Homo sapiens: one gene and its partners. The protein of the gene in region 5 purifies or fractionates together with the protein of the main gene of each other region. This does not show direct contact. Each region holds a gene or a part of one and is shown on either strand. Other genes may lie near its edges.

The links.
Region 1: the proteins of P2RY12 (region 5) and GOLPH3 purify together in Homo sapiens (affinity purification with mass spectrometry; 3 studies listed by BioGRID and IntAct, with this or other methods). This does not show direct contact.
Region 2: the proteins of P2RY12 (region 5) and ECSIT purify together in Homo sapiens (affinity purification with mass spectrometry; 3 studies listed by BioGRID and IntAct, with this or other methods). This does not show direct contact.
Region 3: the proteins of P2RY12 (region 5) and CRELD1 purify together in Homo sapiens (affinity purification with mass spectrometry; 3 studies listed by BioGRID and IntAct, with this or other methods). This does not show direct contact.
Region 4: the proteins of P2RY12 (region 5) and XPO4 purify together in Homo sapiens (affinity purification with mass spectrometry; 3 studies listed by BioGRID and IntAct, with this or other methods). This does not show direct contact.
Region 6: the proteins of P2RY12 (region 5) and TNPO3 purify together in Homo sapiens (affinity purification with mass spectrometry; 3 studies listed by BioGRID and IntAct, with this or other methods). This does not show direct contact.
Region 7: the proteins of P2RY12 (region 5) and MRS2 purify together in Homo sapiens (affinity purification with mass spectrometry; 3 studies listed by BioGRID and IntAct, with this or other methods). This does not show direct contact.

The regions. Positions count from the first base shown.
Region 1 is NC_000005.10:32,143,020-32,147,434, forward strand, and holds part of GOLPH3 (Golgi phosphoprotein 3), read right to left. Parts: intron 862-4,415; coding exon 730-861; intron 1-729. UniProt on the Homo sapiens protein: Phosphatidylinositol-4-phosphate-binding protein that links Golgi membranes to the cytoskeleton and may participate in the tensile force required for vesicle budding from the Golgi.
Region 2 is NC_000019.10:11,522,393-11,526,807, forward strand, and holds part of ECSIT (evolutionarily conserved signaling intermediate in Toll pathway, mitochondrial isoform 1 precursor), read right to left. Parts: intron 1,462-4,415; exon of another isoform or gene 964-1,461; intron 159-963; exon of another isoform or gene 1-158.
Region 3 is NC_000003.12:9,939,921-9,944,335, forward strand, and holds part of CRELD1 (protein disulfide isomerase CRELD1 isoform 2 precursor), read left to right. Parts: intron 1-929; coding exon 930-1,106; intron 1,107-1,190; coding exon 1,191-1,286; intron 1,287-2,892; coding exon 2,893-2,976; exon of another isoform or gene 2,977-2,977; intron 2,978-3,156; coding exon 3,157-3,252; intron 3,253-3,460; coding exon 3,461-3,595; intron 3,596-3,754; coding exon of another isoform or gene 3,755-3,831; exon of another isoform or gene 3,832-3,969; coding exon of another isoform or gene 3,970-4,175; exon of another isoform or gene 4,176-4,415. UniProt on the Homo sapiens protein: Protein disulfide isomerase. Promotes the localization of acetylcholine receptors (AChRs) to the plasma membrane.
Region 4 is NC_000013.11:20,797,838-20,802,252, forward strand, and holds part of XPO4 (exportin-4), read right to left. Parts: intron 3,154-4,415; coding exon 2,994-3,153; intron 2,489-2,993; coding exon 2,319-2,488; intron 1,503-2,318; coding exon 1,328-1,502; intron 1-1,327. UniProt on the Homo sapiens protein: Mediates the nuclear export of proteins (cargos), such as EIF5A, SMAD3 and isoform M2 of PKM (PKM2). In the nucleus binds cooperatively to its cargo and to the GTPase Ran in its active GTP-bound form.
Region 5 is NC_000003.12:151,377,756-151,382,170, forward strand, and holds part of P2RY12 (P2Y purinoceptor 12), read right to left. Parts: intron 2,470-4,415; coding exon of another isoform or gene 2,358-2,469; intron 419-2,357; coding exon of another isoform or gene 257-418; intron 1-256. Other genes in the region: MED12L (mediator of RNA polymerase II transcription subunit 12-like protein), read left to right, coding at 257-418, 2,358-2,469. UniProt on the Homo sapiens protein: Receptor for ADP and ATP coupled to G-proteins that inhibit the adenylyl cyclase second messenger system. Not activated by UDP and UTP. Required for normal platelet aggregation and blood coagulation.
Region 6 is NC_000007.14:128,967,817-128,972,231, forward strand, and holds part of TNPO3 (transportin-3), read right to left. Parts: intron 2,500-4,415; coding exon 2,332-2,499; intron 1-2,331. UniProt on the Homo sapiens protein: Importin, which transports target proteins into the nucleus. Specifically mediates the nuclear import of splicing factor serine/arginine (SR) proteins, such as RBM4, SFRS1 and SFRS2, by recognizing phosphorylated SR domains.
Region 7 is NC_000006.12:24,409,152-24,413,566, forward strand, and holds part of MRS2 (magnesium transporter MRS2 homolog, mitochondrial isoform b precursor), read left to right. Parts: intron 1-309; coding exon 310-422; intron 423-1,575; coding exon of another isoform or gene 1,576-1,648; intron 1,649-3,070; coding exon 3,071-3,244; intron 3,245-4,415. UniProt on the Homo sapiens protein: Magnesium transporter that mediates the influx of magnesium into the mitochondrial matrix and regulates magnesium metabolism. Also permeable to calcium, sodium and potassium ions.

The DNA of each region.
Region 1 (4,415 bases), on a different chromosome or scaffold from region 5:
TGGGGAAAAGATTGAGAAATCGGATGGTTGCCGTGTCTGTGTAGAAAGAGGTAGACATGGGAGACTTTTCATTTTGTTCTACACTAAGAAAAATTCTTCTGCCTTGGGATCCTGTTGATCGGTGACCTTAAACCCAACCCTGTGCTCTCTGAAACATGTGCTGTATCCACTCAGGGTTGAATGGATTAAGGGCGGTGCAAGATGTGCTTTGTTAAACAGATGCTTGAAGGCAGCATGCTCCTTAAGAGTCATCACCACTCCCTAATCTCAAGTACCCAGGGACACAAACACTGCGGAAGGCCGCAGGGTCCTCTGCCTAGGAAAACCAGAGACCTTTGTTCACTTGTTTATCTGCTGACCTTCCCTCCACTATTGTCCTGTGACCCTGCCAAATCCCCCTCTGCGAGAAACACCCAAGAATGATCAATAAAAAATAATAATAATAAAATAAAATTAAAAATAAATAAATAAATAAAAGCTGCAAATGAAGTCTAGAATCTTTCTGAATTTGTAAGATCCAGTGGCCGGTTACCTTAACAATCAATTACATTACTCATTGTAGGTGAAAGAACCAGGAAACCAAGAATGCAAAAAAGATATGGAAATACAATTGAAGAAAGACAACTTTAATATCAACTTCCACTTTAATTTTTGAAGGCTACTAGTAAAAACATACATTTTAAGCAGTACAACCTCTTTAAAAAGAATGTTACTCAGCACTCCTCTTACCTTTCTTGTTAATAGACTTTTACGTCTCATTCCACAAGCCTCTAGTTGTAACCTTCCTCTCAATGCTAATTCAATTAACATACAGCCACGTAATCCAGATGATATACAGTCATTCCAAAATGATGTGTAACCCTATTAAAAAAAGAAGAAGAAATAAAACAAAATAGCTAATTTACCTTGAATTCAGAGTAAAAAACAGAAATATTATCAGCCAAAGTCATATTTGGTGCCTTTTACCTTTCCTGTCTTTCTATAATAATATACTGAAAAAATACAATTAACATAAATTACTAATCGAGAATTTTCGGGGGCTTATCTTTCCACCACTTATTCTTACATACAAACAACAAATAACTTTAGAGGTCATAAGTTTAGAAACATAACTCACATTTCACCAAGCTGTGTGTTTATTAGGTTCTTTCAGAACCCTGCAAACTCCAAGGAATACTCAGTTAACCCCAGATTATAGTGATTTATTTATGTGGACAAGTTAAGAAGCTCAGGCAAAGACAACCTAGCCAAGTTAGCTTCACAGAGAATTAGAATACCATTCATTTATTGCTGTTTAGGATAAAACCACAAGGTTAATCCGAGCACTTTGGGAGGCTGAGCCAAGACGATGGCTTGAGCCCAGGAGTTTGAGACCAGACTGGACAACATAGTGAGATCCTGTTTCTACCAAAAAAAATTAATTAGCTAGGTGTGGTGCTGCACACCTGTAGTCGCAGCTACCCAGGAAGCTAAGGCAGGAGGACCACTGTGTCCAAGAGTTCAAGGCTACAGTGAGCAATAATTACACCAACACACTGCAGCCTGGGCAAAACAGTGCGACATTGTCTCTTAAATACACACACTGTTAATTTTGTAAGAAGATATTAGAAAAACACACATGCGCCCACAAACAAATGGATGGCTATAGGCCTAAAATTCTCAATAATAAACAGTATAACAATCAGATTGGCCCCAAGAGAGAATGTAAGGGCAGCATCCACAGTGGAAGAACGGCCAGACATAAGGAGGTTGATAGACATCTAGAGATCTGGGATACTGGTCAAGCAGGCATCACCAGATGAGGTCAGGACACTTTAACAGCAAACAACTGGGGTTGTTCAAATTATAAAGCCACAAATCTTGCCAGCAGGATTGCCAGCTATCAATTTAAGATACCCAGTTCTCATGAGACAGCAGAAGCTATAAATAACTCTCATTAAGGCTCAGAACAGGGTAACACAATTTTGGTAGGAGAACAGGCCAACTGAATCTCTAAAGAATGGAGGGCCCAGGATTAGGAAGGCCTGGCCCTCACCTCTGGCACTTTTCCAAGGTCAATCCTGGCACTTTGTCAGGCCAGAGTAGTGAGCTTGTGTTTCAGAAGATGACTGACCATTGAGGTCCATCAAACTTCATTTTTGATACAAGGAGTTAAATTCGCCTCACCAAGCTACCACTTCTGAGAATGTGACCTTTGGGAAAATAACAATTTAAAGGAGGCACAAGCGGATAAACAAAAACATCAGTGTTAAGAGATCAATTTAAATGTGAGGTGTAAGTAGCAGACACTGACTGGATTTTAGGGAGTCACTTTAAACTTAGGGTCGGGGCCTGATCAAATGAAGATTACCAGAGATTTAGCAAAGTGGCTAATAATACCAGTACTTTATAGAGGTTAGGTAAAATGCGTGGCTTCTGTGTCCATGAAATTAAAGCCCTAGGAAGCCTGAGAATGAATTCCACATGAAATTAAAGTTACAGATATCTGGCTTTGACTGGCCTGGACATATAGACAGAGTTCCTAAATGAGCCTCTACAAACTGTAAACAACAGAGAACACCTCATAAAGCAATAATGGACGTGAACAGCCCTACAGCCTGCAAACTCCAGCTGAACAGTACCTGGAGGCTTACATTTGACAGCAGAGAACTAAAATATGTCTCAATCTCAATTGCTCCTAGAGTAATGGCATACCCAGAGATATTAGCAAAATGGGGTCTTTAGTAACAGACTTCAGAGATCTAAATTTAGTGAATGGCTTTAGGCATCATCGCTGAAAGACACATGCTTAAACAGAATTGGATTCACATGGGAAAGTAGATGAATGGGAACGGACAGTTCTGTACCACAGCTTCTGGGACTCGTCAGCAATATTCCAAAGATAAATGAAGCCAACAAAGACACACCAAACAACAGAAAAGTACAGTATGTTGATACCCTCCTGCTAAAATCCATGTCATAAAAGCAGGATCAAAAATTAACCATAGGGTGGCCAGGCGCAGTGACATACACCTGTAATCCCAGCACTTCGGGAGGCAGAGGCAAGCAGATTGCTTGAGCCCAGGAATTCCAGACCCCTGGGCAACATGGTGAAACCCCATCTCTACAAAAAATACAAAAATTAGCCGGGCATGGTGGCACCCGTCTGTGGTCCCAGCTACTTGGAAGGCTGAGGTGGGAGAATCACCTGAGCTCAGGAACTTGAGGCTGCAGTGAGCCATGATCATGCCACTGCACTCCAGCCTGGATGACAGGAGTAAGACCCTATCTCAAAAAAAAAAAAAAGATAAAATATGTGGGGAAGGTTAGTAACTGGCAGCATCAAGCAGCTTATGACTGTAGTCATAATTAGTTCCTATGTTCTAAAATATAAGGATGGGAGAGGACAGAGACACCCCAAGTAGGCTGGGCCATACACTACCAGACCTCCATCTGCCTGATTCCCTTTATTCTTTCAAGTGGCTCAATTTGAATGGTAGAAAAGGGTATTGTTTATTAAGTCCCCTAAAACTGCCAACACTGAGAAGAGTTCTCACCATTCCAGTTAAGAGCTACTGTTCTGCTCTCAACTGCCTACTTACCCAGAAGCTTTTTGTTAAGAAGGAACTCAAAAGGTTGGTAACCCAAAATGAAATGTAATAAAAATATTTTGTATAAAGATCATAACAGGGATATAACCGGAAGTATAAGATTTTCCTTATATGTTATTAAAAACATTTACAACATGGGAAAATGCTCATAATATATATTCTACATGAGAAACAGATAAAAAATTATATTATCTAAAGCAGAGTGTCCAATCTTTTGGCTTCCCTGGGCCATACTGGAAGAATTATTATCTTGGCCCACACATAAAATATACTAACACTAATGACAGCTGATGAGCTAAAGAAAACAAAAAAAAAAACCTCATGTTTTAACAAAGTTTACAAATTTGTGCTGGACCAGATTCAAAGCCGTAGGCCACCTGCGGCCCACAGGCCACGGGTTGGACAAGCTTGATCTAAAGTGTAATCTTATTTTGAAGTTACATAAATATTAATACGTATGTATATCATAGGTTTGTATTTACAAAAAAACTTATAAATGTTCACATCCTTTGACACAATTCTTATGGGCCTTTAGTTAGAAAATACTGTGCACAAAAATATATGTACAAATATATTGATCACATCATTATCATAGTAAAACACAAAAACAATCTAAAAGCAAAAAAAAGGGAATAAACTCAGCACTTCCCAAACTTTCCTGACCTTGAAGCATTTTAATTTACAGTATACTTTTAACAGCCTACAGAATATTACAATTCTATGAAAATCAGTTTTAAAAATCCTGGTGCAGGAGGCGGAGGCTGCAGTGAGCCGAGATTGCACCACTGCACTCTAGCCTGGTGACAGAGCAAGACTTCATCTCAA
Region 2 (4,415 bases), on a different chromosome or scaffold from region 5:
CAAGCAGTTCCAAGACTCCAAGATCAAGTTCCCGCTGCCCCACCAGGTCCTGCGCCATCAGCACAAGCCACGCTTCACCACCAAAAGGCCCAACACCTTCTTCTAGGGGTAGGGCCCTCACCCAGGTGTGCCCCACGTAAACTCAGGAACGCCCCGGTAAAAAAAAAAAAAATTAGCCAGTCATGGTGGTACATGCCTGTAATCCCAGCTACTCAGGAGGCTGAGGTGGGAGAATTGCTTGCACCTGGGAGGCAATGTTACAGTAAGCTGAGATCGCGCCACTGCACTCCAGCCTGGGTGACCGAGTGAGACTCTGTCTCAAAAAAATTAATTAATTAAATTTAATTAAATAAAAGTTACAACTTTAAACACTGAGGGGCTAGTAAAAAGAAAAAAGGTCGGGCACGGTGGCTCACGCCTGTAATCCCAGCACTTTGGGAGGGTGAGGCGGGTGGATCACGAGGTCAGGAGATCGAGACCATCCTGGTTAACACGGTGAAACCCCATCTCTACTAAAAATACAAAAAAAATAGCCAGGCGTGGTGGCAGGCACCTGTAGTCCCAGCTACTCAGGAGGCTGAGGCAGGAGAATGGTGTGAACCCGGGAGGCGGAGCTTGCAGTGAGCTGAGATCCCACCACTGCACTCCAGCCTGGGTGACAGAGTGAAAGAAAAAAAAGTTACAGCTGAATGTGCCTGCCTCTCCATCTACCTCCTCCACCACCTCTTCTGCCTCTGCCACCCCTAAGACAGCAGGACCAACCCCTCCTCTTCCTCCTCCTCCTCAGCTTACTCAATGTGAAGACGATGAGAATGAAGACCTTTATGATGATCCACTTCCACCTAATGAATAGTAAATTCAATGTGTTTTCCTGATTTTCTTAATAACATTTTCTTTTCTTCAGCTTATTGTAAGATTATAGTATTATATATATATATAACATTAAAAAATATGTTAATCACCCTTTCCCTGCCACTGCCGAGTTGCGCGGAGGCGGAGGCTTGGGTATGTTCAAGATTCAGCTTCACCCATAACCCACTGCCATGGCCGAGGGAGGCATTGCTGCTGGAGGTGTAATGGATGTTAATACTGCTTTACAAGAGGTGCTGAAGACCGCCCTCATCCACGATGGCCTAGCACGTGGAATCTGTGAAGCTGCCAAAGCCTTAGACAAGCGCCAAGCCCATCTTTGTGTGCTTGATCCAACTGTGATAAGCCTATGTATGTCAAGCTGGTGGAGTCCCTTTGTGCTGAGCACCAAATCAACTTAATTAAGGTTGATGACAACAAGAAACTAGGGGAATGGGTAGCGCTCTGTAAAATTGAGAGAAGGGAAACCCTGTAAAGTGGTTGGTTGCAGTTGTGTAGTAGTTAAGGACTATGGCAAGGAGTCTCAGGCCAAGGATGTCATCCAAGAGTACTTCAAATGCAAGAAATGAAGACATAAATCTTTGGCTCACATAAAAAAATAAGTTAATTGACTGTTATGTAATCACTGAGACCTCTGGACAACAGTGGGCTATTAGTAGTTAAGATTTTTTGTTTTGAGACAGGATCTCACTCTGTTGCCCAGGCTGGAGTACAGTGGTATGATCATGGCTCACTGCAGACTTGACCTCCCAACTCAAGCAATCCTCCCACCACTGCCTCCTGAGTAGCTGGGATTACAGGTGTGCGCCACCACACTCAACTAATTTTTACAATTTTTATAGAGGCTGGGTTTCCCTCTATTTTCCAGGCTGATCTCAAACTCCTGGGCTCAAGCAATCCTCCCACCTCGGCCTCCCAAAGTGCTGGAATTACAGAGGTGAGCCACTGCACCTGGCTGGATTTTGGGGGTGTCAAAAGTAGCCTGGCAGGGTGGCTCACGCCTGTAATCCCAGCACTTTGGGAGGCCGAGGTGGGCAGATCACGAGGTCAAGAGATCGAGACTATCCTGGCCAACATTGTGAAACCCCATCTCTACTAAAAGTATAAAAATTAGCTGGGCGTGGTGGCAGGCGCCTGTAGTCCCAGTTACTCGGGAGGCTGAGGCAGGAGAATCGCTTGAACCCAGGAGGTGGAGTTTACAGTCAGCCGAGATTGCGCCACACTGCACTCCAGTCTGGATGACACAGCAAGGCTCCGTCTCAAAAATAAATAAATAAATAGAGCACCCCACTGAAGGCTGGGCACAGCGGCTCATGCTTCTTATCCACTTTGGGAAGTCAGAGTGGGAGGATCACTTGAGCCCGGGAGATCAAGAACAGCAAAAAGAAAAAAAAAAAAGAAAGAAAAAAAATACCAGCTGGGTGTGGTGGCACTCATTTGTAGTCCCAGCTACTCAGGAGGCTGAGGTGGGACGATCACTTGAGCCCAGCAGTTCAAGGTTATATGAGCTATGATTGTGCTACCACACTCTGGCTTGGGTGACAGAGTGAGACCCTATCTCAAAAATAAAAAAATAAAAAATAAAAAGCACTCTGGCCAGGCGCAGTGGCTCATGCCTGTAATCCCAGCAATTTGGGAAGCCAAGGCGGGTGGATCACAAGGTCAGGAGTTCAAGACCAGCTTGGCCAAGATGGTGAAACCCCGTCTCTACTAAAAATACAAAAATTAGCGGGACAGGGTGGCGGGCGCCTATAATCCCAGCTACTAGGGAGGCTGAGGCAGGAGAATCACTTGGACCTGGGAGACAGAGGTTGCAGTGAGCCGAGATTGCACCACTGCACTCCAGCCTGGGCAACAGAGTGCAACTTCATCTCAAAAAAAATAAATAAATAAAAATAAACATAAAAAGCACTGCAATGACTTTCATATGCACCTAGGATTAAGACCTTAATTTAAATTTTCAGGGCCAGGCTCGGTGGCTCATGCCTGTAATCCTAGCACTTTGGGAGGCCATGGTGGGAGGACTGGTTGAGCCCAGGAGTCCAATACCAGCCCTGACAACATAGCCAGACACTGTCTCTATAAAAAAATTTAAAAATTAACCAGGCATGGTAGTATACACCTGTCTGTGTTCTCATTCCTTGGGAGGCTGAGGTGGGAGGATCACATGAGCCTGGGAGGTCCAAGCTACAGTAAACCAAGTTCATGCCACACACTCCAGCCTGAGCAACACAGCAAGACCCTGACTCAAAACAAAAAAACAAAAACAAAAACAAAAAAACTACAGCTACTTAAAGTGTGTTCTAGGGACTGGCAGTGTCAGCAACATTTGGAAGTTTATTAGAATAGCAAAATTTGGCCGGGCATGGTGACTCACGTGTGTAATCCCAGCACGTTGGGAGGTCCAGGCCAGCTGATCACCTGAGGTCGGGAGTTCGAGACCAGCCTGACCAACATGGAGAAACCCTGTCTCTACTAACAAAAAAAAAAAAAAAAAAATACAAAATTAGCCGGGTGTGGTGTATGCTTGTAATTCCAGCTACTTGGGAGGCTGAGGCAGGAGAATTGCTTGAACCTGGGAGGCAGAGCTTGTAGTGAGCCAAGAGCACACCATTGCACTCCAGCCTGGGCAACAAGAGCGAAACTCCATCTCAAAAAAAAAGCAAAATCTCGGCCCTATCCCAGACCTACTGAACTGGAATCTGCATTTTTTTTTTTCCCAGGCGGAGTCTTGCTCTGTCGCCCAGGCTGGAGTGCAGTGGTGCAATCTTGGCTCACTGCAACCTCCGTATCCTGGGTTCAAGCAATTATCCTGCCTCAGCCTCCCGAGTAGCTGGGATTACAGGCACATGCCACCATGCCTGGCTAATTTTTGCGTTCTTAGTACAGACAGGGTTTCACCATCTTGTCCAGACTGGTCTTGAACTCCTGACCTTGTGATCCACCTGCCTTGGCCTCCCAAAGTGCTGGGATTACAGGCATGAGCCACTGCGCCAGGCCCAAATCTGCATTTTAGCGAGTCCCTGGTATCTCCTGTGAGCATTAAAGTTTGAGAAGTGGTGATCTGTGTGCTGATGGCTCCCCAATGTTCACCTCAATCCCTGGGCCCCAGCCTTTATACCTAACTGCCACTTTGGCATATACCCAGCCATCTCAAACATAATTTGCTCCAAACTGATATCCTTGCTTAAACTTGATCCTCTCCATCCTATCCAATCGCACCACTACTACTGGCCATTCAGGCTACAAACCTAGGAGACATTTCTGAGTCCACTATGTCCCTCACTCTCCTATTCAATCCATCAACTAGTCTAGGTGACTACTTCCAAATCCATCCCAAATGCATCTCTTTCTATCTGAAGCCACCACCTCAATCTATGACTTGGATACCTATCAAGCCTCCCACTTTTGCCCTTCCTGCCTCCAGTCAGTTCTCCCCACTATGGCCAGAGGGAGCTTTTTTTTTTTTTTTTTGGAGACAGAGTCTCACTCTGTTCCCCAGGCTGGAGTGCAATGGCGCATCTCGGCTCACTGCAACCTCCGCC
Region 3 (4,415 bases), about 140 Mb from region 5:
GCCCCTCACCTCCCGGACGGGGCGGCTGGCCGGGCGGGGGGCTGACCCCCTCACCTCCCTCCCGGACGGGCTGGCTGCCCGGCGGAGACACTTCTCACTTCCCAGACGGGGCGGCTGCCGGGCGGAGGGGCTCCTCACTTCTCAGACAGGGCGGCCGGGCAGAGACGCTCCTCACCTCCCAGACGGGGTCGCGGCCGGGCAGAGACGCTCCTCACTTCCTAGATGGGATGGCGGCCGGGCAGAGACGCTCCTCACTTTCCAGACTGGGCAGCCTGGCAGAGAGGCTCCTCATATCCCAGACGATGGGCCGCCAGGCAGAGACGCTCCTCACTTCCCAGACGGGGTGGTGGCCGGGCAGAGGCTGCAATCTCGGCACTTTGGGAGGCCAAGGCAGGCGGCTGGGAGGTGGAGGTTGTAGCGAGCCGAGATCACGCCACTGCACTCCAGCCTGGGCACCATTGAGCACTGAGTGAACGAGACTCCGTCTGCAATCCCGGCACCTCGGGAGGCCGAGGCTGGCGGATCACTCGCGTTTAGGAGCTGGAGACCGGCCCGGCCAACACAGCGAAACCCCGTCTCCACCAAAAAAATACGAAAACCAGTCAGGCGTGGTGGCGCGCGCCTGCAATCGCAGGCACTCGGCAGGTTGAGGCAGGAGAATCAGGCAGGGAGGTTGCAGTGAGCCGAGATGGCAGCAGTACAGTCCAGCTTCAGCTTGGCATCAGAGGGAGACCGTGTAAAGAGAGGGAGAGGGAGACCATGGGGAGAGGGAGAGGGAGGCCATGGGGAGAGGGAGAGGGAAAGGGGGAGGGGGAGGGGAGGGGGGGAGGGAGGGAAGGCAAGGGAGAGGGAGAGGGAGAGGGAGAAAATATTATCTTGTATATCAAGGTTGTATAGATGACCTCACCTGGTTTGGTGTCTTCCCACAGCCTGTCCTGGGGGAACAGAGAGGCCCTGCGGTGGCTACGGGCAGTGTGAAGGAGAAGGGACACGAGGGGGCAGCGGGCACTGTGACTGCCAAGCCGGCTACGGGGGTGAGGCCTGTGGCCAGTGTGGCCTTGGCTACTTTGAGGCAGAACGCAACGCCAGCCATCTGGTATGTTCGGGTAGGTAGCCAAAAGGTGTGGCACTGGGCAGGGGCAGATGGGGCACCTGCCTGCCCATCCTCATGCTGCCCCCATTCCACCCAGCTTGTTTTGGCCCCTGTGCCCGATGCTCAGGACCTGAGGAATCAAACTGTTTGCAATGCAAGAAGGGCTGGGCCCTGCATCACCTCAAGTGTGTAGGTAAGTGGGGCCCTAGCTAGGTCTGGGAAGATGGTCAGGGGCCTGGGCTTGGTCCTTTATTCTCTCAACACAAGCCTGGGCTAGACTAGCCTAGTCTCCACCTTCATGGAGATCTCAACCTGGCTGGGAAGGCAGAAAAGTAACCAGATACTTACAGTCCAGTACACAGGTACTGTGTAGTATAGTCCCTGTGTACAGTGAGAGATGCCTCTGATCTAGTTCAGTGGAAGTGGTGATGGGGAATCAGGAAAGGCTTCTTGGAGGAGGCGTTACTTTGGCCAAGTCCTAAAAATTGAGGAAGGGGCTGGGCGCGGTGGCTCACGCCTGTAATCCCAGCACTTTGGGAGGCCAAGGCGGGCAGATCATGAGATCAGGAGATCGAGACCATCCTGGCTAACATGGTGAAACCCTGTCTCAACTAAAAATACAAAAAATTAGCTGGGCGTGGTGGCGGGTGCCTGTAGTCCCAGCTACTCAGGAGGCTGAGGCAGGAGAAGGGCATGAACCTGGGAGGCGGAGCTTGCAGTGAGCCGAGATCGCACCACTGCACTCCAGTCTGGGCAACAGAGGGAGACTCCATCTCAAAAAAAAAAAAAAAAAAAAAAAAAAATGAGGAAGGGTTGGCTAGGAGAATGAGGACACTGAACTTGGGGTCAGGAAACCTGGGTTCAAGACTTGGTTTGGTCCCAGCCTAGCCACTTATATAGACTAAAGTAAAGGCTAAGCTGCTGTAACAAAAATCCCCAAAAGACTGTGGCTTAAAGAGTATAGAGGTTGGCTGGGTGTGGTAGCTCACTCACGCCTCTAATCCCAGCACTTTGAGAGGCTGAAGTGGGGTGGATCACCTGAGGTCAGGAGTTCGAGACCAGCCTGGCCAACATGGCAAAACCCTGTCTGTACTAAAAATACAAAAATTTAGCCAGGCATGGTGGCAGGTGCCTGTAATCCCAGCTACTCGGGAGGCAGAGGCAGGAGAGTCGCTTGAATCCAGGAGGCAGAGGTTGCAGTGAGCCAAGATCACACCATTGCACTCTAGCCTGGGTGACAAGAGCGAAACTCCATCTCAAAAAAAAAAAAAAGAATCTAGAGGGTAGAGGTTTATTTTTTTTTATCATATTACAGTCCCAAAGTGAGTAGTCCAGGCTGGCAGGGGAGCTCTGCTAGTCATAATCATTCCAGTACCCAGATTATTCCTGTAACTTACTGCACAATCATCCCCTTGGGCGTTGTCTGCATGGTTGAAGCTGAGTCCTGGGCATCTCTGTGTCCCACATGCCAGCACTCAGGAAGGGAGAAGGGAAAGAAAGTGCATTGAGGAGTCCAAGCATTGTTTTAAGACCAAGCTAACGGTGGAGCTCATCACTCCTGTTTACATCCTGTTGGCCAGAACTCAATCACAGGGACACACTTAGCTTCAAGACAGGTTGGCAAATGTGGTCTCTGGCTGGGCAGCCTGAAGTCCAGCTAGTCTGCTTCTGTGTTGGTAGACAGCTTGCAGTCTCTGCCATACCATTTAATCCCAGGCAAGACCATTCCCCAACGGCTCTGGCTTCAGCTTCCCTACTAAATAGGGATTGAAATTCTCACCCTGCTCACCTCTCTGCAGACATTGATGAGTGTGGCACAGAGGGAGCCAACTGTGGAGCTGACCAATTCTGCGTGAACACTGAGGGCTCCTATGAGTGCCGAGGTCAGTGTCTACTTCTGCAGAGGAGGGGACGTGAGGAGTGGAGGAAGAGCTGCTCCACACCTGTCCCTCCAAACCTTCCCCTTCTCAGGCTTCAGAGCACCCCCAGGCCTCCGCTTCTGGAGCGTGGCTCCCCTGGGCCTAGGTGCACATCTCACCCTCATCTTTCTCTCCTCTCTCCAGACTGTGCCAAGGCCTGCCTAGGCTGCATGGGGGCAGGGCCAGGTCGCTGTAAGAAGTGTAGCCCTGGCTATCAGCAGGTGGGCTCCAAGTGTCTCGGTGAGTCTCCTGCTGATGGGACACAGGCACCTGGGAGTGCCTCACCCAGCATGAATGGTGAAGAGGCTGGAATATGGGCAGGTGGGGGAAGGAAGGGTGGAATGTTGCCTGGGCAAGGGCAGAGGGGAGTGTTGAGAGATGGACAAGATGGAGTCAGGGTGCTGGGTGGGGGGCCCTAGCAGGACTCTGACCCCTCCCTCCCCTCAAGATGTGGATGAGTGTGAGACAGAGGTGTGTCCGGGAGAGAACAAGCAGTGTGAAAACACCGAGGGCGGTTATCGCTGCATCTGTGCCGAGGGCTACAAGCAGATGGAAGGCATCTGTGTGAAGGAGCAGATCCCAGGTGAGCCCTGGGGCGGGAGAGGGGAGGTCCTCATTCAAAGAGAAGGCAGGCAAGCCCCTTCCCCAGGTAGCAGTGGCAGCTCCAGGCCCTGCCCCATCCCTACTGCCACCCAGCCCCCTGGAGGCTGCACTGAGACCGGGCTCTACATCTGATCTCCAGGTTGGCTCTCAGCAGCCTTATACCTTCCAGGGTACAAAGGGAATCAGACCTGGCATCAAATCAGTCTGCCTCCTTAACCTGTTTCCTCATCTATCCAATGGGACCAGTGTTTGCCCTGGCCTGCTGAGAGCTGTCCTAGGCCGGGGGTGTGGTGAGATGCAGGGTAATCACAACGATGATGGCAGGGACCATTTCCCCAGCAATTACTGTGTCAGATGCTGTTCTAGGTGCATTCCCCATCTTAACTGATTTAACCCCTGAAACAACCCGACGCTGGAAGTTGGGTTCTCATCCCCACTCTACATATGTAAAAATGAAGATGCAGAGAGATGAAGCTACTTTCCCAGGGCTATATGGCAAGCAAGTCGCAAAGCTGGGATCCCAATCCAGACAGTCTGACCGTGGAACGAGACTCATACACGTAATAAATGCTCTGCCCCCAACTTGTCCACCACATGGCCTTGGCAAGTCCAACCCCTTTACCTCTCTGAGCCTCACTTTCCCATTTAGTGAGACAGGGATGGTAACTGCCCCTTGCAGGGTGGTTTTGAGCAGTAAATGTAGTGTGCCTGGCTTGCTGGGCAGGCCTGGTGGCCATGATGATCAGGTGTGTGGGAGTTCTGGGGAGACTCCAAGAACTACCAGGAACAGGGATACGAGT
Region 4 (4,415 bases), on a different chromosome or scaffold from region 5:
CAGGATATGAACTTATTTGATAATAGAGTTGGCCGGATGCAGTGGCTCACACCTGTAATCCCAACGTTTTGGAAGGCTGAGGTGGGCGGATCACTTGAGGTCAGGAGACCAGCCTGGCCAACATGGCAAAACCCCGTCTCTACTAAAAATACAAAAATTAGCCAGGCATGGTGGTGCGCACCTGTAATCCCACCTACTTAGGAGGCTGAGACAGGAGAGTCGCTTGACCCAGGAGGTGGAGGTTGCAGTGAGCCAAGATCACACCACTGCACTCCAGCCTGAGTGACAGAGCAAGACTCCGTCTCAAAAAAAAAGAAAATAGGGTTGTCATAGATGTAATTAGTTCAGATGAGGTCATACCGGAATAGGGTGGGCCCCTAGTTCAATATAACTGATATAGAAAGGGGAAGTGTGGATGCAGACACACACAGGGGGAGCATGTGAAGATGAAGGCAGGGATCAGGGTGATGCGTTTACAAATCAAGGAATGCCAAAGACTGCCAGCAAGCTACCAGAGGCTACAGATTTTCCCTCATAGCCTTCAGAAAGAACAAATCCCATGGACACCTTATAGCTTGGACTTCTAGCCTCCAGAAGTAGGAGAAAACAAATTTCTGTTGTGGTATTTTGTTAGAGCAGCCCTAGGAAATGAATATCATGGTTAATCTGCATCTTATTCAAGACAGGAGAATATTTCCCTGATCCCTAATGAAAATTTAATAAGCCAGTCCATGCTCTCGACTGAGTTGTGAAAAATGTGCCTAAAATGCAGAACACTTGATAATATTCAATGTCATCACACACAGGCAGGTACAGAAAAATTATAAGACAACATTTGTAAAATAAGAAGCTTCAACCCATTCATTAGGAGAAAAAATATCAGAAAAGCTATGACTGGGCCGGGCACAGTGGCTGGTCACATCTGTAATCCCAGCACTTTGGGAGGCCAAGGCGGGCAGATTGCTTGAGGCCAGGAGTTCGAGACCAGCCTGGCCAACATGGCAAAAGCCCGTCTCTACTAAAAAAAACAAAAATTAGCTGGGTATGGTGGCATGAGTCTGTAGTCCCAGCCACTTGGGAGGCTGAGGCAGGAGAATCGCTTGAACCTGGGAGGTAGAGGCTGCAATGAGCTGAGACTGCACCACTGTACTCCAGCCTGGGCAACAGAGTAAGACCCTATCTCAGAAAAAAAAAAAAAAGAAAGAAAGAAAGAAAGAAAAGCTATGACTGATACATTTATGTCTCCAGAGACTCTTACGGCAACGCATAGATAAAGGAACTACAGAGTTACACAAAAGGGTGCAATCAAAATAGACAGCACTGTTACCTCTGTCCAATACTGCTGTTTGGTTTCTGTGTCCATATGTGCAAAACCTCCTAAGACTAGAGCCTTCATCAATGTCCTCTGCACAGGACTTGACAAGAAATTAAGAGGTGGGCTTCGGCTTGCAAACTGCTTAGCTAAATTCCACCAGTTCTCACATTGAATTACTAAGTTTGCCCTACAGGTAGAAATAACAAAACATAAGATGTATTACTATGTATATACATACACACATACACATATACACACAAAGAAAACAAAAATAAAAAATAACTAGATTTAATTACTGTTAAAGCAAAGTACAGTAAACTTAGTATAGACTTTGAAGTCACAGGCTTACATTCAAATCCCACTAGTTGTCTGGTGATGTAAAATTTATTTAACCTCTATCAATCATCACTTCTCTATAATCTGCAAAATAGGAATAATAACAGTCTCCTGGGGCTGAGACTGATATAATGATTAAATGAGATACTACCTATGACATGCTTAGAAGAGTACATAGTAAATTATAAGAATTCAATAAACCAGACAATGACAATGGTAATAATAACAATGATACTCCTATACAGTAAGAACAACGAAAACATTTCTAGAATTGTTGTAGAAAGCACTAAAAATTTTACTTTCCAACATTAAATTTTAAATATCAGTATTTAATCTTTAAAATGGGGATGTCTAAAAATTCAAATGAGCATATTCCACATAAAAGTGTTTGCAACACGATAAATTACTAATGTGTTACTCATAGGGCTTTGATGCCAAATCCTGAAGGAGTCAATGTAATGCTCAATTATAAGATGGGAAAGCTCCATTTGCATTTGTAATAGTACTGTGACATAGTTTTTAAAACCCATTACTCCAAAAATGTAGGCTCTATCTGGAATTAGGACCGTGTAACCATTTGCCAGTTCAAAGGACTACACTAAGAAGTGAAAAAGAGTTTCTCACCCACACACATACACACACAGTCAGCCTCCAACAATGGGCTAACCTTTCTCTTCTTTCCACCAAAGTGACAAGGAGCTGCACAGTGTCATTTGCAAGGTCCTGCTCACTACTCCAGACTGAGAGGTTACTGATGACTTTTTGTAAGAGGTAGCCAATTATCCACTGAGAACCCTCTGTATCTGCTCCGAACGCTGTACTGAATGGCAGACTTATCTTAAGAGAGGAAACAAATTTTTTAAGGTAAGCAAGAAAGATCAACTCAAGAAAAAAAAAACAGAGAAAAATCGAACTGAAATTAGTATCTAATCTGAAGTAGTGCTTACTTCACATCAACTTTACACATGTACTCATTTCCACTGGTCAAAAAAAAAGACATCCTCAATCCACTCACATTTTCCAGTGTGATTTTCCCGTCAACTTCTATTATTCCCATAGTATTAAAAAATTAACATAGTATTAAACCAAATACAAAAAAGCATAATCTATTCCCAAATAATAATCTGTATCTTCAACAGCAGTTAAAATAAACGATATCAAGGGATGTGCTCAAAAACACATTAAAACAGCATTCCAGTCACATAATTCTCTTCCACACAGAAAATGTTAAACTGCTCTTAAACAGTTCTATTTTGATGAAAAACCACCAAGAAAAATGTTCCTGCTTCTATAACTGCTATCATCATAAATCCAAATGAAGTTTTAAGTTTTACATTCTGACCTGATCATACAGTTTTTCATCCACCAGGAGATAAGTCTTTGCCCAGCGTTTTAAAAACCAAACAATATCTTTGCCCATCTGGGGACTTAGTAGATGAGTGAGATCTGCTCTTATTGCTCGAGATTCAACTTCTGAAACTCTGAGAATGGCAGACAACAGCCTGTAGGTATAAAACAGAAGTCATTTATTCTTTTATTTATTTAGTTGCTGTCTAATCATATTTTTTTCCTTAAAAGTCCTTTTTTGTCTTTCAGTTCTCTGGATTTAGGTCAGGCTATACTTGAACATTTCATCTACAGAGTTTTAGACAACTGTCCCATATTATTTCTGATCTTTCACGAAGCAGGAGACAAGATAAGGAAAGGAAGAGTCAACACTAGAGATGTCCTTCTGCTGAAGTTGTAACCACATGTGTGAATATCAGCATTACTAGCTAAAGAGAATTTTCAGATTCAAAATTTTCAGATTTTCAGGAGAAATACATCAAATTAAATCTTCAGAGTACATGCCAAACTCTTTTAGCATGTACTACTTAGCATCACTACTTAAAACTACCCTGGTTAGTATAGTTTGTGTTTTTATATCATGGTCATGTTACAGTACAAGATCTGGGAATTATTTAGAAAGTTTTGAATATTGAGCCTTGTTTAAATCCAATATTTCCTAGTAAACTTGATTCTTCATGGTATTTTTAAATAAAACTCTTGCTAGAAAGATTACCTGTGTAAGTACACATATTGTCCTTTCCTACACTACATAATTCATATGGTCGTGTGGTGTCAATCACATAGCGTGACATGCAGACAAACAGAAATGTCTTTGTTGAGGAGGGCACATAATCAGAAGTGATATATATTTAACCTGACTTTAGCCAAAAGGCAAGGAAGCAAAGGAGGTAATGGAAAGACCCCATTACACACTAATGAATATCAGTGCTGAGAAAAGGATTCTAATCACTCAAATTCGGCTTATGCTCCTTTACTAGTGCTCTCAGGAAGCCTGAAATGATCTCATCATGAAATCATACACACGTGTTTCAGTTCTTTACCCCACTGGATGGCCCACTGTCACTGCCCTTATCTTCCTGCAGCCTCCCTGGGGTCACTGCCCTTCCTCTCTTCATCTAGCCATCTGCTTCCTCTTTCCCAGTCTTCATGGCAGCATCCTCTTCTCCTGAACTTCTTCTTTAAATCAGGAGGTTTTTAAGGTTCCACCCCAGAATCTCTTCTAATTTTTTTTCTTTTTTAGACAGAGTTGCTCTGTCACCCAGGCTGCAGTATGCCCAGACACAGTCACGGTCCACTGCAGCTTTAACTTTTTGGGTTCAAGTGATCCTCCTGCCTGAGTTTCCCAAGTAGCTGGGACTACAGGCACACACTACTACACCAGGCCGATTTAAAAAATTTTTGTAAAGACAGGGTT
Region 5 (4,415 bases):
CGGAAAACATTAAAGTCAGTTTAGTTACAATATCCTTCCAGAACTGCATGTTTTATTGCTTTCTGTAGGCTTAGGTGGAAAGCTCATGCAAATGTCTAGTGTTCGGAAAAAGGAAAGATAATACAGAAATAAAAGGGAAATTTTAGAACAGTCTGTGTGTCTCATACATCAAAGTTTCGCTTTGGAGTTTCTGTTATAACTGTGAGAGCAGGGGAAAGGATGCTTTCTCCGGTGTAACACCTGTTTCTGATTTTAGTTCCTCCGAACGCAGGGGTGTATGGTTGGTGGCCCCCCTCATCGCCAGGTTGCCAACTTCTGTGCAAGGAAGAGTGCTGAAAGCCGCTGGGGAAGAGCTGGAGAAGGGACAGCACTTGGGTTCTTCTTCCAAAAAGGAAAGGGACAGACAGAAACAGAAAAGGTGTGGCTGGAAGATGGGCGTCTGTGTGAGAGTTTAAAGAATAATTGAGAAAGTCTCACTTCCTGTAAACCTGTGTGGTCACTGTACCCACAGTCCACTGAAATTTAGTTTTTAAATGGAACTGGGAATATTCTATTAGGCAAGGCTGTCTTATTCCTAAAAAATTTCAGGTTATAATCCTTAATACATTAGTTCTCAATTCTGCCTTTATATCCAAATCACTGCTGAACTGTTAAAAACAGTGATTTCCGAGACCCGCTTTAGACCAACTGAATCAGATCTGGATAGCTACCTGATCCCTGTATTTTATTTTTAATTATTTCTATTTTTTTATTATTTAGATATTTATGTTTAAAATAAATATAATGTATAATTCTGGCATGTTGGTGTCTGAACTAGTTGCTCATATTTTTAACATTTAGGGCTCCTGTTCTAGACTAGACATTAAGACTCCTCGGCCACCACAACTAATGTTTTCTTAATTTATTTTATGCCCAAGAAAAGGTTTCAAGTAATTATATTTGAAAACCGTGTTACTGAGAAAGAAAGAAACCTCACCCTAATGTGAAAATGCCAAGAAACCTAGGAGTAAAGGAAAAAAATTGATAATTTCTTCCATTAAAAAAATATTTTAAGCACATAGATTTCTTGTCCACTAATGAATAATACTATAGTAGCCACCATTTATTGACTGCTTACAGAATGGCAACTCCTCTCTAAAACTCATTATGTACATGAGCTTTTAAAATTCTTATAGCAATCATGTGGTAGGTACTCTCATTATCTTCTTTATATCATGTTGAAACAGACACTTAAAGGTTACATGAGTTGCTCCAGGACACACAGTGAAGGACATAAAGCCTGGGTTTAAATCCAGGAGGTCTGGCTTCTGAGCTTGTGCTCTTAACTACAGTACATTTTGGTAGAGACCCAGCATTGTATGTACTGTATTTGTTTTACATCTGGTTGTTTTACCATGTTGGCCAGGATTAATTAACCAACAAGGAAGCATAATTCTAATTTTCAAATCATATTTGCTGATAGGTGAGTGTATGTGCATTGCCTAACTTCCCATAGGCAGGACAGATGGTATTGAAGAGACTTGAAAGATCGCTCTTCCCACATCAGGGGCTCTTTATTCTGCCCATGGAGAATAATGCTGATTGAAATATTTTGGCCTAGGTCTCATTTTAAGAAATTTGTCTTTCCAACATGGCGCTTTGTTTGTCAATATGATTTGTTGATTATTCTCTAATTGAAGACATTTTGTTAAAATGCCAATTTAAAACAGAATTTTTAACCAAATGCCTTGACACCTCTTTACCAGTGGATGCTGCGGGCTATGTTGGAGCCTGTGGGCTGTGTTGGAGCTGCACACTAGGGGTCGCCAGCAAGTACACTGTTTTTGGAGTCCTCAGCCCTGGCTGATGAATTAGCTCTACTAACACCCTGCTTTTTGGTCTTGGGAAATGTGCTGAAAAACAAAATCAAACCCCAAAACAAGCTCAACAGACATATATATAGGCCTGTTTTCCCAGACTCTAAAACAAGAGTTTTATATGAGAACTTTAAAAATTTTTAATTTTATCCTGTGTATAAATTGATATTCTTTCTGATGTACATTTTTAAATTCTGCATATTGATGTAGAAGATGAATTCACTGTCTTCTACCCTCACTGCCCGGCATGCTCACATGCAGTATGGTTTGATGCTAGTTTGAGAATGGCTTCGAGGGCAATTAGAGCATACGAAGTGATTTAGAAGCATTACAGTGGCTTTTAATTTTATAAGTAGAGGTATGATTTAAATTTTCAAGCAGTCTTTGGCTATTTACCACCTCTCTTATTTATCTAATAGTGAGGCAAAGAAATGAATGTTGCCAGAGGAAGTAATGCATTATTTCTAACTAGATCTGTTGTTATTATTACTTCCTTTGTAGTATGTCTCTTTTGAGTCAACAACCCTTCCTCTCACTGGTACTTACCTGCCTTAAGGGACAAGATGAACAAAGGGAAGGCCTCCTAACATCTCTCCAGAATCAAGTTAACCAGGTAAAGTATAGTATAATATTAAGACAGGCAAATATCTTTCTAACGGCATTCATTTATTTGCCTTTCAAATACTGAGATTAAATTAATAAGGGCCAGGTGTGGTGGCTCATGCCTGTAATCCCAGCACTTTGGGAGGCGGAGGCTGGTGGATCACCTGAGGCCAGGAGTTCGAGACCAGCCTGGCCAACATGGTGAAACCCCGTCTGTACTAAAAATACAAAAATTAGCCGGGCATGATGGTGTGCGCCTATGATCCCAGCTACTCGGGAGGCCAAGGCAGGAGAATTGCTTGAACCTGGGAGGCAGAGGCTGCAGTGAGCTGAGATCGCGCCATTGCACACCAGCCTGGGAAACAATAGTGAAACTCTGTCTCAAAAAAAAAAAAAAAAAACAACTAGTAAGGTTACAAAATGTTTTGAGTAGACGCTGAGAAACAATCCATGCCTTATTCTTCTACCTGGCATTGTAGACACCACAAGATTAACAACTTTATATTAATGAGATATATACAATAAATGTGTACTGCCTATAAAAGTAAAATTTTATATATTGCATATAACTTTGAACTATCTGCCCGTCTCCTAACTCTGCCTCATAGGAGAGGACCTGGAGCAATCTATGCTGCAGTAGGCATGGCAGTGAGTCCAGCTCCTCAAGCTTGGATGCCACATTATCAGGCACGCTTTCAGCTTGAAATCTGTAGGTTCAGAAACTCAGTTGTATTGATGCCAACCAAGTACACAAGAAATAAATCAGAAGGCATGTTGGTTTATTTAGAAATAATTTGGACATTGCCTTTTCACCAAACACAGTTCTCCTGGTCACTGTTTGAGGCTCTTGCATCTATGTACTATAAGGAAACTGAGCATTCACAACAGAAATTGGAGAGCATGGAATTAAGCAAAGTGGATAGATTGGTCTTATGAGGTGTTTTATCCTGATACACAGCCTAATTGACCCCTTCTTGTGGCACTGTGTTTCTATGACACCATGTCTTTCCCTCGAATGGTACTAGATGGACATGGACAAGGACACTTAATCTTATTTGATCCTCTTGTCATTTCTCACCTTTTGGGTAGGAGAGATCTAGATATAGCAATCATAGTGAACCTTTTTAAATGGAAGTCACATATTACCTCAGTATACCTAGTATAAAAAATTCGGGCTGATAAGGCCAGACATGATTTGACACTGGCTCTCTCTCCTACCTTGTCTCCTACCAGTCATGGCCCTCTTTCCTCCATGGTTGTTGCACTGGCCATGTTACTGTTCTTGAACTTGCTGAGCAAATTCTCATTTCAGTGCCTGTGCATCTTTTCTTCCCTTTAGGTGGAAAGATTCCCTTCCAGAGATTAGCATGGCCTGCTCCCTTCATTCAGTTCTCTGTTAAGATGTTACCTCCTTCGGGAGGCCTTTGATCACCTCTAAAAATAGGACCACAGCCATTCTGTATGCCATTGCCATGCCTCAAACCACTTGTTACACTTAGTTTTATTTGTCCCACTACTATTATTTGAGCTCCATGAGAGCTTGTTGTTTAGTTAACTACCTTGCCCCCTTAAGCCAGCCTTAGGGAGGGGTTCATTTCTTCTGATGAGATTTGGGAAGTGCTTTCCTCTCACCTTGCAGGGTACTTACAGGTCATCTGTTGGGATGGAGTACTTCTGCATGTGACTCATTTGAACTCTTTTAAGATGACTCTCATTAATGACCATATTTCAGAGCATGATAGGGTTTTTGTTAGTGGTTTTTTGTTTTTGTTTTGAATTGCACTTTTTTTTTGCTCATCTCATCTGATTTTAGGGTGTTGCCCACTTGTGGCTCCCTTTCCTAAGCAAATTTTTCCTTTTCCAGCATTAGTGTGAGTCAGTGAGGAAGTGAAGAAGCAGCCCACTTTATAAACTGATAAAGCCACTTGGCTGATGTCTGCAATGCCATATTTTTCA
Region 6 (4,415 bases), on a different chromosome or scaffold from region 5:
GCAGTGCACTGCAGCTTTGACCTTCCAGCCTCAAGTGATCCTCCCACCTCAGCTTCCCAGGTAGCTCAGACTACAGAAGTCCATCAACATGCCTGGCTAATTAAAAACAATTTTTTTTTTTAAGAGATGAGGAGTCTTTCTATGTTGCCCAGACTGGTCTCAAACTCCTGGGCTCAAGAGATCCTCCCAAAGTGCTGGAACTACAGGTGTAAGCACTTGACCAGTATATTTTTAAAATTAAACAGATTTCCAAAAACTCTTGAGCTTAAAGATCAAAAGTGATCCAGAGTAAAGGTTCAGATACCTGAAAGAGCAGGGGCAAAAAGTATACTAAGCCACCATGTCAGAAAGTATACATATGAGACATATGAGTCCAGAATCTTAAGGATTTTAAGGCCATCTCTCTCAGAATAAGTCCTATCCATTCAGTTCCTTTGTGATATCTGCCTGTTCTTTGTGTTAAAAAACCTTGCTCTTGTTGCTGTTTAATTTACTTATATATTTTTTATATAAGTATATCTAAGAATTCTCTTTATGCCTTTTCTATGCACAAAAATTGTCTACTCCCTTTACTTCCTTCCTTTCTAAAATAAAAATTCTACAGACTTCCTCTGGGTTCTTATTTTCAGTTTAATTGTTGTCCTTTGGGTCAGCACTAATATTTCTTCATCCCTTTCTTAAGTGGAATGTATACTTCAGTCATAGTTTTGGGCTGTAAAATTACTCTTTTATACCTAATTTTTTTTACATTATATATTTTCCCATCATATTCATTTATGGCCATAATAGGCCAGAGCAAAAGTATTATAAATGCTCATGAAGTACTAAGCATTTCTTAATTATGGATACATAACAGCTCCTTAATTCTTAAAAATACATAATAGTTGTTATATAGCAAACTTTTTCTTTTTTGAGACAGGGTCTTGCTATGCAGCTCAGACTGGAGTGCAGTGGCATGATCATAGCTCACTGCAGGCTGGAACTCCTGGGCTTAAGCAATCCTCCTACCTCACCCTCCTGAGTAGCTGGGACTATAGATGTATGCCACCACACCCAGCTAATTAAAAAGAAAAAAAATTTTTTTTTTTTTTGTAGGGATGGGGTCTATGTTGCCCAGGCTGGTAGTCTCAAGCTCCTGGCGTCAAGTGATCCTCCTGCCTTGGTCTCCCAAAGTATTGGGAAGACAGGCATGAGCCATTGTGTCTGGCTGATATACAGTACACTCCTTAGAGTACATGGCTACCTGGTTTCTATTCCTGTCCAAACTTCTTGTTCTCATTTTTTGTTGTTGTTGTTCGCACTTAACAATATGCTTACAATCAAGAATGTTTTCATAAAGTTAGATTTACATAAGTTTTCTGTTACTTGGGAACCAAATGTATTTGTAAAAAAGTTTAAGCAGAGTATGAAGACTTTTTCCCTCAGGTCAAGGACTTTTGAATTAAATTTGCTGATTCCTGGAGGCTCAAAAAGTACTTTTCTTTAGAAAAACAAATATGCTACTCTATCAGGTTGAAATGGAACATGTGTATTGAACCAGAGAGGAATAGGTACTATCTGTTATATATTATTATTATCAATTTTATATTCTGTGGTTCTGTAAGACAGCTCACTTTAACTAGGTCCCAATGAGTACTTTCCTGAACTGCTTTTACAGTAATATTAAAAATTATAAATTCCATTTTAAAAATGATTTCAGGTTATATTATACTTTACCATTCTACTCAACTTTCACACAGTACACATAACCTGAGTTATGGTCATGTGGCCCAGTACTGAAATTACTTGGGCATTATTAGATAGCTTTAAAAAAACAACTCCATCCTTAGGTGGGTGATAAAGGATCTGGTTCAAAGAAATCCAAAGGGGAAATATATCCAACTGTACATTGTGGGTTACTTTGACAATTATGTGCTTCCAAATGTTCTGGCTAGATGTATCACCAAGAAATAATACAGTGCTATAGAATAAGTCTGAAAGGATTAAATACTTCTTGAGTAATACGTAACTAATATAACTGACATTTGGGCATCTCTCACAAGTGAACAAATTTCACATTGGACAGCCACACAACTGAATTCAATGCTTGATACTTACTTCTGGTAATATACCCCCTATGACAGTGACATAGAAACATGCTTTAAAGAACTCAATAATAAATTACTGATCTTTACGGGCCTCTTCATCTACCAATCTAATTTGGCAATATGCCTAAATTTGGTTCCATGGACAGAAAACAGGGCTAGTTTCAAAATTAGGGTTGGCCTTAAGGAACCAAAGCCTATTACATTTAGGGACTATGAGATAAATTCCTCATGAAAACAATCTTACCGGTCTGTCAACCTGCATGATCTCCCAGAGCACTTCAGCCACATCTGGTAGGGTATAGGGGGGGAGGCAAAAGCAGCAGGTGTGCAGCAGCTGGCTGACAAGCTGCTGTCCAAGCTGGTTCATCACCTGTCCAATCAGTTCTTTCCGTAATTCAAAGTCTTCTTCATGCTGTATGTAGGAAAGCAGGAACATCAGATAAATTCTAGTCTCAACTTCCCAAAGACCAAGCACTCTTTCCCCTTTAGTAATTTCTCTTTAATAGGAAAGTGTGTGTGTGTGTGCACGCGTGGCTGTGTGTGTGTGTATGCAGGTGTGTGTAAAATGACAGCTGGATTCACAAAGTCCAGAAGTTTTTTGTCTTTAGAAAGAAAATGAAGGAGTTTATTAGTATCCAAGGAATGAACATGGGTTTCAACAGAGATTAATGCTTAGATTTTTCATGATTTGAAGGCAGAAAACATGGTTAAGAATTAAAGTTAGCAATTTTTAAAATTTTTTTCTCTTCATCTTCTATGTGATGGTATTAATTTTTTTTTAATGTGAAAAATAACTTGTGTTCCTATTTCCTTTTTTAAAAACTAAGTCAGCCTGGCATGGCAGCACACACCATAGTCCCAGCCACTCCAAAGGCGCAGGTAGGGGAACAGCTTGAACCCAGTGTTCTGGGCTAGAGCATGCTATACCAATTGGGTGCCTGTACTAAGTTCAGCATCAATGTGGTGACCTCCCAGGAGTGAGGAACCACTCCTGGGTTGCCTAAGGAGGGAGGGGTGAACAGCCCAAGTCAGAAACAGAGTGGGTCAAAATTCCATTCTGATCTGTAGTGGGATCTCGCCTGTGAATGGCCACTACAGTCTGTCTGGGTAACACAGCCGGAACCCCAAGTCACAACAAAACAAAACAAAACAAAACCAACTGAAATTAGAATTGAAGACGTCTATCAGAGATCTAATTTTTTCTATCGAAAAAAAAAAAACCCTTTTTTTCTTCTTGCGGTCTTTAATTTTTTTTTTTCTGAGACAGCGTCTTGCTCTGTCACCCAGGCTGGAGTGCAGTGGCCTGATCTTAGCTAACTGAAACCTCCATCCCCTGGGTTCAAGCAATTCTCCTGCCTCAGCCTCCCTAGAAACTGGGATTACAGGCATACACTACCACACTTGGCTAATTTTTGTATTTTTAGTAGAGACAGGGTTTCACCATGTTGGCCAGGCTGGTCTTGAACTCCTGACCTCAAGTGATCTGCACGCCTTGGCCTCCCAAAGTGCTGGGATTACAGGCGTGAGCCACTGCGCCTGGCCCTTCTTGTGGTCTTTAAATACACATGTATTTCTAATACCTTGAGAAAAATATTTTTTAAATTGCCTTTCCCTTCTAGTTATTTTCTTCTCTCTTTTACTGCCAAACTTCTTAAATGAATAGCCTAAATAGAATGCAGAATACTTACTTCTTCACTGCTCTCCCCTGTCTACAATTCTACTCCACATCTAATCAAACCTACCTTCGAAATTCCTGTGAAGCACTTTACTACTCCCACTGCTTAGTTGTCTACTAACAAACTTAGTACTATTCTGACTTGCTCTGATCTTGGCTTAGAGGCAGTATGACTATCTGCCTCTCTAATCCATCAAAATTCTACCTCTAATTCATGGCTTCATTTAAATCCCTCCCCTTCCATAAAGTTATTCCAACTCTTTTTGGTCTAGAGCTTTCCCTCGTCTGATCTCATACCAATCATGACTTTTATCACTCATCTGACAATCAAATACTGGAGGCCAAGGTGGGAGGATCACTTGAGGCCAGGAGTTCAAGACCAACCTGGGCAACATGGTGAAATGCCATCTCTACAAAAAATATAAAAACTAGCCAGGCATGGTGTTGAATGTCTGTAGTCCTGGCTACTCAGTAGCTGAGGATCCCTTGAGATTCACATCACTGTACTCCAGCCTAGGCGACAGAGCAAGACCCTGTTTCAAAAACAAATGAAAAACACCAAACACTGGCATCTTGTTGTTACTTAACTCTTTAAACTTGTTTCTCTCTTCAACTAGACACCAAATGATTTGGGAGCATGAACAGTTTTAGAC
Region 7 (4,415 bases), on a different chromosome or scaffold from region 5:
GATAACCTGTCTCTAGAGCTGGACATTTATAGGTTCTAATGATGCATAGTTGTGGTTTCTGTATTAGTCTCAAGGGTCTTCTAAGTAGTGAGAAAGTTATGAGGTATAGATAAGAAAATCATTAGTTTGACTCTATTTAGCCCGAGTATGTTTTCTAGGTAAAAATGGATATTAAAAGACTTAATTTTAGTTTTTGTTTCTGGTAGTAACCAAAAATTGTCTTGATGGTGGTGGGAGGACTGCTCTGATGGAAAAATCTAAGCCATTTAATGTATTTGGTTTAGCCCTCTCTGTTTATTTCTTTTATAGAAAGGAAGAAAACTGAATTATACCAAGAGTTAGGTCTTCAAGCCAGAGATTTGAGATTTCAGCATGTAATGAGTATCACAGTCAGAAACAATAGGATTATCATGAGAATGGAGGTAAAATATTTTATTTTCATCTATGTTTCTCCAATACAATCTTATAAAAGTTACCTTCTAACTATCTTGATTAGTATCTAGGTTAAAAGTAATTTTGGAATAGAAATAGCTACCTGAAACATAGGATGTTTTATAGCTTAATATGCTATTATGAGTAGAACTCATTTTATATGGATTATATGCACATGTTCAATAGGCATAACACTGCTGTGTTTTAAGTTGGAAAAGCTCTGACTGTGGTGTTCATTCTCACTGTTGGGATTTACTCTCTAGTTCTGGAAACTATAAGACAATCCTGATTTATAATAGATATATATCCAATTGTGTACAGTTACATGTAATTATAGTATAACCTGAGCTACCAAAAATGTATTCTGGCTTTCTAAATAGCACAGGAATAGACATTAAATTTTATAGCCTTAATTTTTTTTTTGAGATGGAGTTTTGCTCTTGTTGCCCAGGCTGGCACGATCTTGGCTCACTGCAACCTCCACCTCCCAGGTTCAAGCAATTCTCCTGCCTCAGCCTTCTGAGTAGCTGGGATTACAGGCATAAGCCACCAAACCCAGCTAATTTTGTATTTTTAGTAGACATGGGGTTTCTCCATGTTGGTCAGGCTGCTCTGAAACTCCCGACCTCAGGTGATCCACCTGCCTCTGCCTCCCAAAGTGCTGGGATTACAGGCATGAGCCACCGTGCCTGGCCAGTTTAAATTTTTTTAATGGAAAACTTTCTGAAATATATTGTATTTTCCCTTACCTATTCAGAGCATGCCAAATAATAATTTGACTTTCTTTAGTGATTCAGAGTTAATGTGGGTTTCAGTTATTTTGGTGGGCTAATGTTTAGGTTCAAAAATAGATGAATGGTATTGGCCCTGTAGTGGGTATGAGACTTTCTTCAAAGAGTCTTTGATGGCAGATTTTTGTTCATTTTTCTAGAACTAATCAAAATAATAAAAAATGGGCCAGTATTGGTAGCATGTGCCTTTAGTCCCAGCTACTCAGGAGGCTGAAGTGGGAGGGTCACCAGAGACCAGGAGTTTGTGACCAGCCTAAGCAACATAGCAAGATCCCATCTCTAAAAATAAATAAGTAAATAAAAAATACTTTATCAAAAATGAAGCAGTCTTCTCCCATGTGATTTTCTTCAGAAATATTCTCTACTCTTGGAATCAGTAGCTAGCATTCTTCAAAACAGTGTCTCTTTCATGGAGAGACAGACAGGTATGTGAAAAAGCAAATTCAGCAGAATGATAATTGTGTAATCTAACTGGTGGGTATATGGTGTTCACTGCAATCTTTCAACTTTTCTGTATAAAAATTTTCATGAGGCTAGGTTGTGGTGGCTCACATCTGTAATCCCAGCACTTTGGGAGGCCGAGAGGGGTGGATCACCTGAGGTCAGGAGTTCGAGACCAGCCTGACCAACATGGTGAAACCCCGTCTCTACTAAAAAATACAAAAATTAGCCAGGCATGGTGGCGGGTGCCTGTAATTCCAGCTACTCAGGAGGCTGAGGTAGGAGAATAGCTTGAACCCTGAAGGTGGAGGTTGCAGTGAGCCGAGATTGCCCCACTGCACTCCAGCCTGGGTGACAGAGCAAGACTTCCATCTCAAAAAAAAAAAAGAAAAAAAAATTCATGATAGAATGTTGGAAAAATGTAAAAATAGAAAATTATCTCTAATTTCTATATCACTGATAAAGTGGCTACCTTTATCTACTTTTAACATACAAGATAACCAGTCTTTTTAGAAAAAATTCTAATTTCATATTGTTCTAAATTAGAGTAGTAAGGCTATGTTTCATCTTAATTTCAGATTTTGTTTATATGCTTTAGTGGTGTTTTAAAAAGGAAACTTCCATTTGTGCCAAACTAATTATGATTAAACTAAATCTTTTCTAAAAGTCTGCTCAATACCTGACTTTTAGGAAGACCTTATCTTGTTCCCTTTATTTATTTATTTATTTTTTCCAAAAAAGAAAGACGGAGTCTCGCTCTGTCGCCAGGCTGGAGTGCAGTGGCACAATCTCAGCTCACTGCAAACTCCGCCTCCCAGGTTCAAGCGATTCTCCTGCCTCAGCCTCTGAAGTAGCTGGGACTACAGGTGTGGGCCACCACGCCTAACTGATTTTTGTATTTTTAGTAGAGACGGGGTTTCACCATGTTGGCCAGGATGGTCTCGATCTCTTGACCTCATGATCCACCTTCCTCAGCCTCCAAAAGTGCTGGGATTACAGGCATGAGCCACCATGCCCGGCTTTCTGGGGGTATTTTTTGGTGTTTTTTTTTTTGTTTTTGTTTTTTTTTCATGATTACCCCAGAAGTCTTAGTAAATATATAATTTATGTGAATAATTCCAGTTTTATTGAGAGTGAGTTAGCAGTATCAAGACATATATTTTTTAAGTTTCTTTTCTTTTGAAAAAAAAAACCTTGATTTTTTTGAAAAACAAAAATGAACACTGATTTGGTTTAGTCTTAATCCACAATTAGTAAAGTATTAAACCAAATTTTATGAATGTTCTTTTTTCCTACAGCTCTACAATTTGCATATATATATGTATGTATACATATATATGTATATACATGCATGTGTGTATATACACTCACATATTTATATGTTTTGGTTTTTTTTTTTTTAACAGTATTTGAAAGCTGTGATAACTCCAGAGTGTCTTCTGATATTAGATTATCGTAATTTAAACTTAGAGCAATGGCTGTTCCGGGAACTCCCTTCACAGTTGTCTGGAGAGGGTCAACTCGTTACATACCCTTTACCTTTTGAGTTTAGAGCTATAGAAGCACTCCTGCAATATTGGGTAAGTCTGTTTTTATTTAGCTTCTTGGGTTTATTCTGATTTTGAAATGTCATTGAGTGGGAAGACAAGTTGGGGTATTGTTTCAATGGCATGTCCCCTGACCACATCCTGCCCCGAAACAAGTCGTCTCTAAGGATCCTACATGGAGATATCACTTAATTCTTAAATGTTATGACCCAGTCAAATAGAACTAAAGACTCTATGTATATTATAAAAATGCTTGACATGTGATAATTATTTTATTAAATCATTTCATCAAGTCATTTTTTGATTTGTTTGTACAATCCTTTGTTTGAGCCAGGTAAATGATGCATCTTTTTGAGACCTAGATTGACATAGGAATCACGCACAGTTCTTCCAGTGACTCCTCCTTTAAATTAAGAGTCCTTAGATGTCTGAGACTCCTGTCAGGCTCTAAACAAGGGTGGTTCTCTGCTTCCCTGACCCCACAAATCTTTCATTATCTTTTCTTCCTCCTGTTAAGTCAGGATGGTACTGTTCAGGAACTGGCTACATGCAAGAGTTGGTGCTGGGAGCATACTAACCAGAGTGGGAGGAGGAGAGAGGGTAGAGAGGACATGAGGTGCATTGGGTTGGGTGAACCTGGCACACTTTTCTTTTGTCTGCCTTGCTCTGAAAGAATAGATGGCTACACTTCCTGCTTGGGGTAATTAATGAGCACCAGCTAGCACCAGCCAGTGAGATGATAAGTAGTGGGAGCCCAGTTACCAAGCAGGGGGAAAGCAGAAGAGAGAAAGAAGATGTAAACAGTGGTAAGTCATGGGCTCCACAGGCTGGGTAAGCTCTCAGGAGCTCATGCTGTTAGGAGAAAGACAGGGATCTTAAAGGGAGCAGGAGGGGAAGGAGAGAGGCTAGGCTGGCATGGGTCTCCGGCCTAGAGATTGGCTGTGGGGAGAATAGAGAGGGAGTTCAGGATGTCTGCTGGGATACACATTCTTCTTCCTTTAAATGGGGTCCCAGGAAGATTTCCTTACGAAACAACACTACATAGAAGCAAGACCAGCCACCTCTCAAAAGGGATAAGTTTTCGAACAAGGGAAAGCTCCCCAAACCCACCTAAGGGACCAAGACATACCATGAGTAGATATGCCTCACAAATACCCTATCTGTGACCCTCAGCAGCCTCCCCAACCACTACAAAAGTCCACAC